3 linked regions of the Homo sapiens genome follow. The protein of the gene in region 2 interacts with the protein of the main gene of each other region in a pairwise test. Each region holds a gene or a part of one and is shown on either strand. Other genes may lie near its edges.

Region 1 (3,500 bases), on a different chromosome or scaffold from region 2:
ATGAAGTTTGGCTTTTATTAATTCATTATAACACTTTCAGTACATTTACTTTCTCAATTTTATTAGACTTAGAATAATTTTAAAATTAGAATGCTTTCTGATGGAAAAAGAAAGTAGGGTGGTAGAGTGTGGTTAGTCTGAGATTAAGGAGGCATTCATATATTATCTATTCTGTGATAATAATGGTGATCAAAAGTTGATAGTCTTCTGATCAGCAAACATAACACTGGAAATATCTTTTAAAAACTGCAGTCTGTACCAGAAAGTTTGAAAGTTATGTTCTTCAAAAGGTGCTCATTTCCATTTGGAAAAGTAAACAATAACCTGCACATCAAGTGATGTTAAGACATTACTATTTTTTTGGTGTGATAATGGTACTATGATTTTCATCAAGTATTCTGATCTTTTAGAGATACACATTAAGTATTTACAAACAAAACGATACGATGTCAGGGATTATGCCAAAATAATATGCAGGAATATTCTATATAATATAGTGCAGGAATTTAGACATAATAAGCAGTCAGGAGTTGATAACTGCTCACGCTGGGTGATGAGTACATGGGGATTCATTACACTCTCCTGTCCATTGTTGAAAAGATGGCTCATGTAAAATAAATGGAGCTAGTGTGGATAAAGACAAATATCCCTATATATATATATATATATATCTTTTGCATTTGAAGAAAACACTATTAACCTAAAGCAAATGTAAATAAACAGAGAAAAAAACAAACATTCAAAAGAATACCCTCTTAGCCTGATCAAATCTAAAACACGGCCAGGCGCAGTAGTTCACGCCTGTAATCTGAGCACTTTGGAAGCCAACGCAGGTGGATCACTTGAGGTCAGAGACCAGCCTGACCAACATGGTGAAACCCTGTCTCTATTAAAAATACAAAAATTAGGGCCGGGCGCGGTGGCTCACGCCTGTAATCCCAACACTTTGGGAGGCTGAGGAGATCACAAGGTCAGGACATTGAGGCCATCCACGCTAACACAATGAAACCCCATCTCTATAAAAAATCCAAAAAATTAGCCGGGTGTGGTGGCATGTGCCTGTAGTCCCAGCTACTTGGAAGGCTGAGGCAGGAGAACCCCTTGAACCCAGGAGGTGGAGGTTGCAGTGAGCCAAGATTGCACCACTGCACTCCAGCCTGGGCCACAGAGCAATACTGTCTCAAAAAAAAAAAAAAAAGGCTGGGTGCAGTGGCCCAGGCCTGTAATACACCCAGCACTTTGGGAGGCTGAGGTGGGCGGATCAACTGAGGTCAGGAGTTCGAGACCAGCCTGGCCAACATGGTGAAACCCTGTCTCTACTAAAAATACAAAAATTAGCCAGGCGTGGTGGCATGTGCCTGTAAGCCCAGCTACTCAGGAGGCTGAGGCAGAATTGCTTGAACCCAGGAGGCAGAGGTTGCAGTGAGCCAAGATCACACCACTGCACTCCAGCCTGGGTGATAGGGCAAAACTCCATTTCAACAACAACAAAAAAATCTAAAATACTATTAGTGATCAGATATAATATACCTGGCAAATACATCTATATAAAGTCAGTAATCACTTTTTTGGCATCTACAAGAAAACATTGCTACAAGTGGAGAGTGAATGATCAAAGGTTTAAACCAGGCTTTTAAAGGTGCTAGACACAGATAGGCAAGAAAGTAGAACAATGTTATTTGCAAGGCAAAAGGTGAGACGTAACTGTGAGACGGATGATCACCAAAATAGACTAAGGAGCAGATTAAGACAGAAGTCAATCAGGAGGCTTTCTGTATGTGTATAATAAAATACTCGTCATTCTCCACCACACCACTCTTAACATCCTTTATCTGTCAATAGCACCACTACTTAAATTACCTAATACTCCAGTATAGTAAGAAACCCAGTATTTTTCTCTTCTTTTTTTTTTTTGAGACAGAGTTTCGCTCTTGTCACCCCAGCTGGAGTGCAGTGGTGCAATCTCGGCTCACTGCAGCTTCCACCTCCTGGGTTCAAGCAATTCTCCTGCCTCAGCCTCCTGAGTAACTGGGATTACAGGCGCCCACCACCACACCCGGCTAATTTATTGTATTTTAGTAGAGACAGGGTTTCGTCATGTTGGCCAGGCTGGTCTCGAACTCCTGACCTCAGGTGATCTGGCCGCCTCGGCCTCCCAAGGTGCTGGGATCGCAGGCATGAGCCACTGCGCCCGGCCAAAACCAGTGTTTTTCTATCCATCCTTTGAAATGCCTCTTCTGTAATTTCTGTTCTCATGGTCATATACTTAGACCAAGTTTCATCACTTGATGCCTGTCTTACTAAAACTCCTCCTCTGTTTATATTCTTGCTTATACTCTGTCACCCTCCCAATTTTCTCAGACACTGTCACTAGCTAAACTTTCCTAAAATGCTGCTCTTTCAGCAAATTGCTCTTCAGCTCAAAAATCATCAATGACTACTGCTGGAGTATCAAATGAAAATTAATTGGCCTGATATACAGGTCTCCTTAGTACTGGCTCCAATTATTATTATTATACATATATTTTTGAGATGGTTTCTTGCTCTATCGCCCAGGCTGGAGTGCAGTAGTGTGACATCAGCTCACTGTAGCCTCGAATTCCTGGGCTCAGATGATCCTCTCATCTCAGTCTCCTGAAGAGCTAAGACTACAGGTGCACACAACCATACCTGGCTAATTTTTTGTATTTTTAGTAAAGACGGGGTTTCGCCATGCTGCCCAGGCTGGTCTTGAACTCCTGGGTTCAAGAGATCCACCCGCCTCAGCCTCCCAAAGTGCTAGGATTACAGGCATGAGCCACCACACCCACCCTCTATTTATCTATTTAACTCATTTCTTACCAACACCTAACCCTCAACGTGAAATCTCTATCACTTGAACCATTCCCAGCATTCCTTTGCTTAAGCCATTCTTATCATTAACTGACTTGGCCCTCAAGCCTGGGCTTACTCACCCCTCCTATCTAGCTCAAGTCTCCTCTCTTCCTTCTTTGAACAACGTAGTTGACTAAAATAGTGTTTCTCAATGTTTTCTTTTTGAGACAGTCTTGCTCTGTTGCTCAGGCTGGAATGCAGTGGCACAATCTCGGGTCACTGCAGCCTCCACCTCCTGGGTTCAAGCGATTCTCCTCCTTTAGCATTCCAAGTAGCTGAGACTACAGGTGCGCACTACCACACCTGCTTAATTTTTGCATTTTTAATGGAGACGGAGTTTCACCATGTTGGCCAGGCTGGTCACAAACTCCTGACCCCAAGTGATCTGCCTGCCTCAGCCTCCCAAAGTGCTGGGATTACAGGCGTGAGCCACTGTACCTGGCCTCAAACTTTAATGTGTATATGAATCCCTAGGGATCGTGTTAAAATAGAGATTTTAATTCAGTAGCTCCAGGATGGGGCCTGAGATTCTGCATTTCTAAAGCTTTCAGGTGATATGGATTCTGCAGGTCTGTGATTCACACTCTGATACCAGAATACTTTGGGATTTCTGGATCTACACCTAA
Region 2 (3,200 bases):
TCCCAGCTACTTGGGAGGCTGAGGCAGGAGAATCGCTTGAACCCGGGAGGTGGAGGTTGCAGTGAGCTGAGATCACGCTACTGCACTCCAGCCTGGGCAACAGAGGAAGACTGTCTCAAAACAAATAAATAAATAAATAAAAGGAAAACTACCTATTGGGAACTATGTTCACTGTTTGGATGATGGGATCAGCAGAAGCCCAAACTGCCTCATCATGCAATATATCCATTTATTAATAACAAACCTGTACCCTCTCAATCTAAAAAAATAGGATGGGCACAGGGGCTCATGCCTATAATCCCAGCACTTTTGGAGGCTGTGGCAGGAGGATTGCTTGAGGACAGGATTTCTTTGTTTCTTCTTCTTTTTCTTTTTTTTTTTTTTTTGAGATGGAGTCTTGCTGTCGCCCAGGCTGGAGTGCAGTGACACGATCTCGGCTCACTGCAACCTCTGCCTCCTGGGTTCAAGTGATTATCCTGCCTCAGCCTCCCAAGTAGCTGGAATTACAGGTGCCTGCCATCATGCCTGGCTAATTTTTGTATTTTCAGTAGAGACAGGGTTTCACTATGTTGGCCAGGCTGGTCTCAAACTCCTGGCCTCAAGTGATCCGCTCACCTCAGCCTCCCAAAGTGCTGGGATTACAGGCGTGAGCCATTGTGCCTGGCCAAGGCCAGGATTTTGAGGTCAGCATGGGCAACATAGTGAGACCTCATCCACCCACAAGAAGTGAAAATATTAGTACTGGTGTGCACCTGTAGTCCCAGCTACTTAGGAGGCTGATGTGGGAGGTCCCAGGAGTTCGAAGCAGCAGTGAGCTGTGATCACACCTCTGCACTCCAGCCTGGGTAACAGACTGAGACCCTGTCTCAAAAATATATATATGTTTATTAGGCACCTACTGAATTCCTGGCAATCTTTGAGGCACTGGGGATTTAGCAATGAGCAGATAAAAATCCTTCCCCTCAGGGAGTTTACCTTCTAGTAAAGCAAAGCAGATAGTAGACAAATAAATGGAAAATGTAAAAGTGACAAGATGTGCTACGAAAAGACATGAAGTTGGCTGAGGGCCAAGGTGGACAGATTGCTTGAGCCCAGGAGTTCGAGACCAGCCTGAGTAACCTGGTGAAACTCTGTCTCTACTAAAAATACAAGAAATTAACCAGGTGTGGTGTTGCACACCTGTAGTCCCAGCTACTAGGGAGGCTGAGGTGGGAGGATCCCTTGAGCCTGGGAGTTCAAGCTGCAGTGAGCTATGATTGCACTGCTGCATTCTAGCCTGGGTGACAGAGTGAGACCCTGCTCCCCAAAAAAAAGAAAATAAATTGATTTTAAAAATCAATAAATAGGCTGGGCGCAGTGGCTCACACCTGTAATCCCAGCACTTTGGGAGGCTCAGGCAGGTGGATCACGAGGTCAGGAGATTGAGACCATCCTGGCTAACAAGGTGAAACCCCATCTCTACTAAAAATACAAAAAAAAAAATTAGCTAGGCGTAGTGTCAGGTGCCTGTAGTCCCAGCTACTCCAGAGGCTGAGCCAGGAGAATGGCATGAACCCAGGAGGCGGAGCTTGCAGTGAGTGGAGATCACGCTGCTGCACTCCAGCCTGGGCGACAGAGCAAGACTCCGTCTCAAAAAAAAAAAAAATCAATAAATAGGGTGGGCACGGTGGCTCATGCCTGTACTCCCAGCACTTTGGGAAGCTGAAGTGGGTGGATCACTTGAGCCCAGGAGTTTGAGACCAGCCTGGGCAACATGGTGAACCCCGTCTCTACAAAAAATACAAAAATTAGCTGGGCAGGTGTGGTGGTACATGTACCTGTGGTCTCAGCTACTTGGGGGATTGAGGCGGGAGGATTGCTTGAGCCCAGGAGTTCAAGGCTGCAGTGAGCTATGATTGCGCCACTGCATTCCAGCCTGGGTGACAGAGTGAGACCTTGTCTCAAATAAATAAATAAATAAATAAATAATAAATCAATAAAAAAATAAAGTGGAGGAAAATACTGCTTCCCTTGGCATCTCAAGTCTGGTTGTTCATCCGCAAGGTCAGCTGGATCTGTAGACTCAGTGGCATAAGGCTGAGGCTGCTTCTGAGAGAGGCAGGGAAACGGCCACTGTTACACACTACAGACCCCTAGTCCCAGCTGAGGGACCTTGCTCAGACCCCTGCCAGCCTGGGCCAAAGGTATCAAAGATTTGCTCTCAGAGACCCAGCAGCCAGGGGATTATTCAGATGACATTGCGACCCAGAGCCCTAAGGTCACTCAGAAATGTCTTGGGATGGCTGGTGTTAGGAACAAGGGCCTTTCAGCAGAAGCCAGCCCCTAAAAGAATGCCAGAGCTGACAGTGAGAGAAACGGGATGCCAAGCAGGGCTGGAGAGGAGAGCGTAAAGGACCAGACAGAAGAGCCGCCTGATAGCTTCCGCTGTGCTTCCTGCATCTGGCCCTCTTTGAGAGCCCCTTGTGTGCCAATGACAAACCCTTCTTTATTTAAGCTCCTCTGAAGTGCCTTCCTGGTCTTGGCAGCTGGACAGGGCCCTGAATAAGACAGCGAGCCTCAATGGCAGGCTACCCCAGGGCTGGGTGACGTATCCAACCCCACAGAAAGTCATCTGTGTTTTCTTTGCCTTTGTTTTAGGGAGCACTGTGTTGGTTTGGCCTCATTTACATGCCGACGGAGTGTTTTGCTGTTGCATTCAAGTGAAAGTTATTCCTGTTCCCCAGCCCCTCAGTTCTGGAGATCTCAGGCCTTCTTCCCACGGAATGTTGTTAAGACTTATGCTCTTACTGACCCCTGCTGGCAGTCAGTGGGTATTGCAGGCAAAGGCACAATACAGCCCTATTTTTGAGACAGGGTCTGTCTGTCACCCAGGCTGGAGTGCAGAGGTGTGATCACAGCTCTCTGCCGCTTTGAACTCCTGGGTTCAAGCAATCCTCCCGCCTCAGCCTCCCAAGTAGCTGGGACTACAGGCACATGGCACCACAGCTGGCTAATATTTTTACTTTTTGTAGGTGGAGGGGGTCTCACTATGTTACCCGGGCTGGTCTCAAAATCCTGGCCTTGACTGGGCACAGTGGCACACACCTGTAATCCCAGCACTCTGGGAGTCTGAGGTGGGCTGATCACTTGAGGCCAGGAGTTTGAGACCAGCCTGGCCAACATGGCGAAACCCCATCTCTACTAAAAATACAAAAATTAGC
Region 3 (2,850 bases), on a different chromosome or scaffold from region 2:
CAATATTCAGGAAAATAGCCCTGTGACTGGCACCATACTAATCAAAAGTTCATTTCTATTAAAAACCCTTTTTTCCTTAAGTAGCTACATCTGGCAAGATTCCTTTTTACATTAAGCCTATAGTCAACAAGTCTGTAATAAGGCATACATGCTATACTTTGATCATTAAATAATGACACAACCAGCAAACTCCTTTGCTCTAATATTTTTTATTCCCCCAAATTTGATCCGAATTTATCAGTATTTTTTAAAGTTTTTAAAATTTCGTTTTTCTCTTAACCTGAGAAAACCTGTCCTCTGCCTTGCCCCCAGTTTTCGGTTGATTCACATTATTCCAAAAATATTTTTGAAGGCTCTGTCATTTGCTAAAACCAAATTTTCTTCTCTATGTACACAACTTCAAGTTAATTGAATATTTGTGCAATCTCAGAGTTCAAAACCTAATACATCCAATTTTAGAAATTTCCTTCACAGATCCCTATTTTTACCATGGCTTTAAGAATAAGACACATAATTTCGCAACAGCACAAATAATTAATACCCCCATTATGTGAAGAAAACTCTGAGCTCTAAATGAGTCTCTTCTTATACCAATTCCTATGACTACTGATCGAGCCAATTTTAATAGTTTCCTGTATGTTTAAGGTCTGTTGCTTGCAAACCAAGGCCTGGATGGTTATAAAATGTACTGGTCAGTGAATTATACTGGGAGTTCTCTGCAACACAATTCATTTAGGAGTTGCACCTTGGACTCACTCAGATAAATATAGTTTTCAGAAGTAATGGAAGCTCTTCATCACAAAAATCTAATACAATCTTGGAGTATGTGCCCAAGAATGGTATCAAAGCAAGGGTCCAATAAACTTGACTGACTTAAACCTGTCATTGTGTTGCAACATTCACCATCCTAAGGTGGGGGGAAAAATGATCCTCACCTATAAGAATTTTAGAAGTTTAATGAGAAATTAAAATAAAAAAAGTCCATTTTCTTTAATGTTGTACAAAAAAGTATGAGCAGAACCGAAAGTAAATAAACATTATCACATTTGTTTACACCACTATCTAGTTCTTCATATTAATTTTACTATTCAAACAATAGAAAGGTGGCAATTTAGGGATCGCAAAAGAGATAAAACCAAAAAAACTTTTCTACCACATTTATTCTACACTGTATATAGCTGTGCTCACAGAGACAAGCGGCTTCTTTTACTTCTCCACTGCGCAGGAATTCAGTTGTAAATAAAATTGAACCTGAATTTTAAAAAGAACAATACCTTTATTAAAGACAGTACATACTACTTTCCATATTAGATAAATAAATTTATCTGGATGTTTCTGCCCTCCCTTAGCATGTCTGGCATTTTCTTTTTTTCCCCTTCGAATGCCTTTTTACCACGTTTGGCATTTTCTACACCAATTTTCCCTCACTGGTCACATCTTACACACTAAAAACACTTGTTGAATACTTATAATAAAAAAAATTAAGACTATAAATTTGATTAATTATCCACTAATAAGTTCTTTAAGGCAGGAAAAGTTTCTACATGTCCTTATACTCTGACTACTCAGCACAGTTCCTGCACTTGACAAGTAGGTGTTTGAATAAATAATATGACTCTTTTCCCCCCATATGCATTTCAACTTGTAACCTATCAGGAGGCCAAAGTGGAGTGGCAAAAGATAAGGTTTGATTAGTGACGAAGTAGAAAGAGCAATTTCATACTCAATAAGCTTTCACAAAAGGCCAATTTCACTAACATTTATTAAGTATGTACCAGATTACTGGCACTGTTGTAAGCATTTTATATGCATTATTTCACTTGGTCCTCATAATCCTCTGAAGTAGAGACTACTATCCCCATTTACAGAAGAAGAAACAGTCAAATAGGTATAATAGTTTGTTCAAGGTCACACTGCCAGCAAGTACTGAGGTTGGGCTTCAAATCCAAAACACTGACTGCAGAATCTACTTTCATAACCACCATGTTATTCTGCAATTCCTATATATGGCTGGCTCTAATAGAGACCTCAACCAGTACAAGTCAACTTTTAAAAAACTGCATTTCTTATCACTCTAACTGCCTAAAGATTCAAACCCCACGTAAAAGTTCAGGACCTAATCCCACAAGCCTCAATTTGGGCCAAAATATAGTAAGTTTCAAAAAAGGAAAACGAATATATTACACCAAGATATTCGATTTGCCACCTTTTTTTTCTTTTTTTTAGATGGAGTCTCACTCTGTCGCCCAGGCTGGAGTGCAGTAGCGTGATCTCAGTTCATTGCAACCTCTGCCTCCCGGGTTCAAGCAATTCTCTGCCTCAGCCTCCCAAGTAGCTGGGATTAAAAGCGCTGGCCACCACGCCTCACTAATTTTTGTATTTTTAGTAGAGATGGGGTTTCACCATCTTGGCCAGACTGGTCTCGAACTCCTGACCTGGTGATACACCCCCGCCTCAGCCTCCCAAAGTGCTGGGATTACAGGCATGAGCCACTACATCCAGCCAATTTGCCACATTTTAATACAGACAACTCCGCTCATATTTACACACTGTTGACTGCTATTTAACCATCTCTTTTTTGAATAAAGACATCAACCTTAACTCTTGAGAATATCAGAATTAGGGAAGAGCAGTTGCACAAATACCAGAATGTCATGCCGAAACTTAAGAGTCTGGGGATGGTATTAGTCACAATTAATCTATGGCTTGCACATGATCTAAGAGTCTATCTACTTTCTTAGTTTCCTTAAAGACCAAAATTCATGAACTATACCTTCCCAAGTGGCTCAGAATATTTTAAATTTGACAGTTAATATGGATGAACCAAAAAATGTTCAACTTTCTGTACCT

What was found.
Region 1: the proteins of FBN3 (region 2) and ANXA7 interact in a two-hybrid assay, tested with the Homo sapiens proteins (one large-scale study listed by BioGRID and IntAct).
Region 3: the proteins of FBN3 (region 2) and NUDT21 interact in a two-hybrid assay, tested with the Homo sapiens proteins (one large-scale study listed by BioGRID and IntAct).

Annotation. Positions count from the first base shown.
Region 1 is NC_000010.11:73,404,059-73,407,558, forward strand, and holds part of ANXA7 (annexin A7), read right to left. Parts: intron 1-3,500. UniProt on the Homo sapiens protein: Calcium/phospholipid-binding protein which promotes membrane fusion and is involved in exocytosis.
Region 2 is NC_000019.10:8,066,760-8,069,959, forward strand, and holds part of FBN3 (fibrillin-3 precursor), read right to left. Parts: intron 1-3,200.
Region 3 is NC_000016.10:56,431,483-56,434,332, forward strand, and holds part of NUDT21 (cleavage and polyadenylation specificity factor subunit 5), read right to left. Parts: coding exon 2,849-2,850; intron 1,252-2,848; coding exon 1,230-1,251; 3' UTR 1-1,229. UniProt on the Homo sapiens protein: Component of the cleavage factor Im (CFIm) complex that functions as an activator of the pre-mRNA 3'-end cleavage and polyadenylation processing required for the maturation of pre-mRNA into functional mRNAs.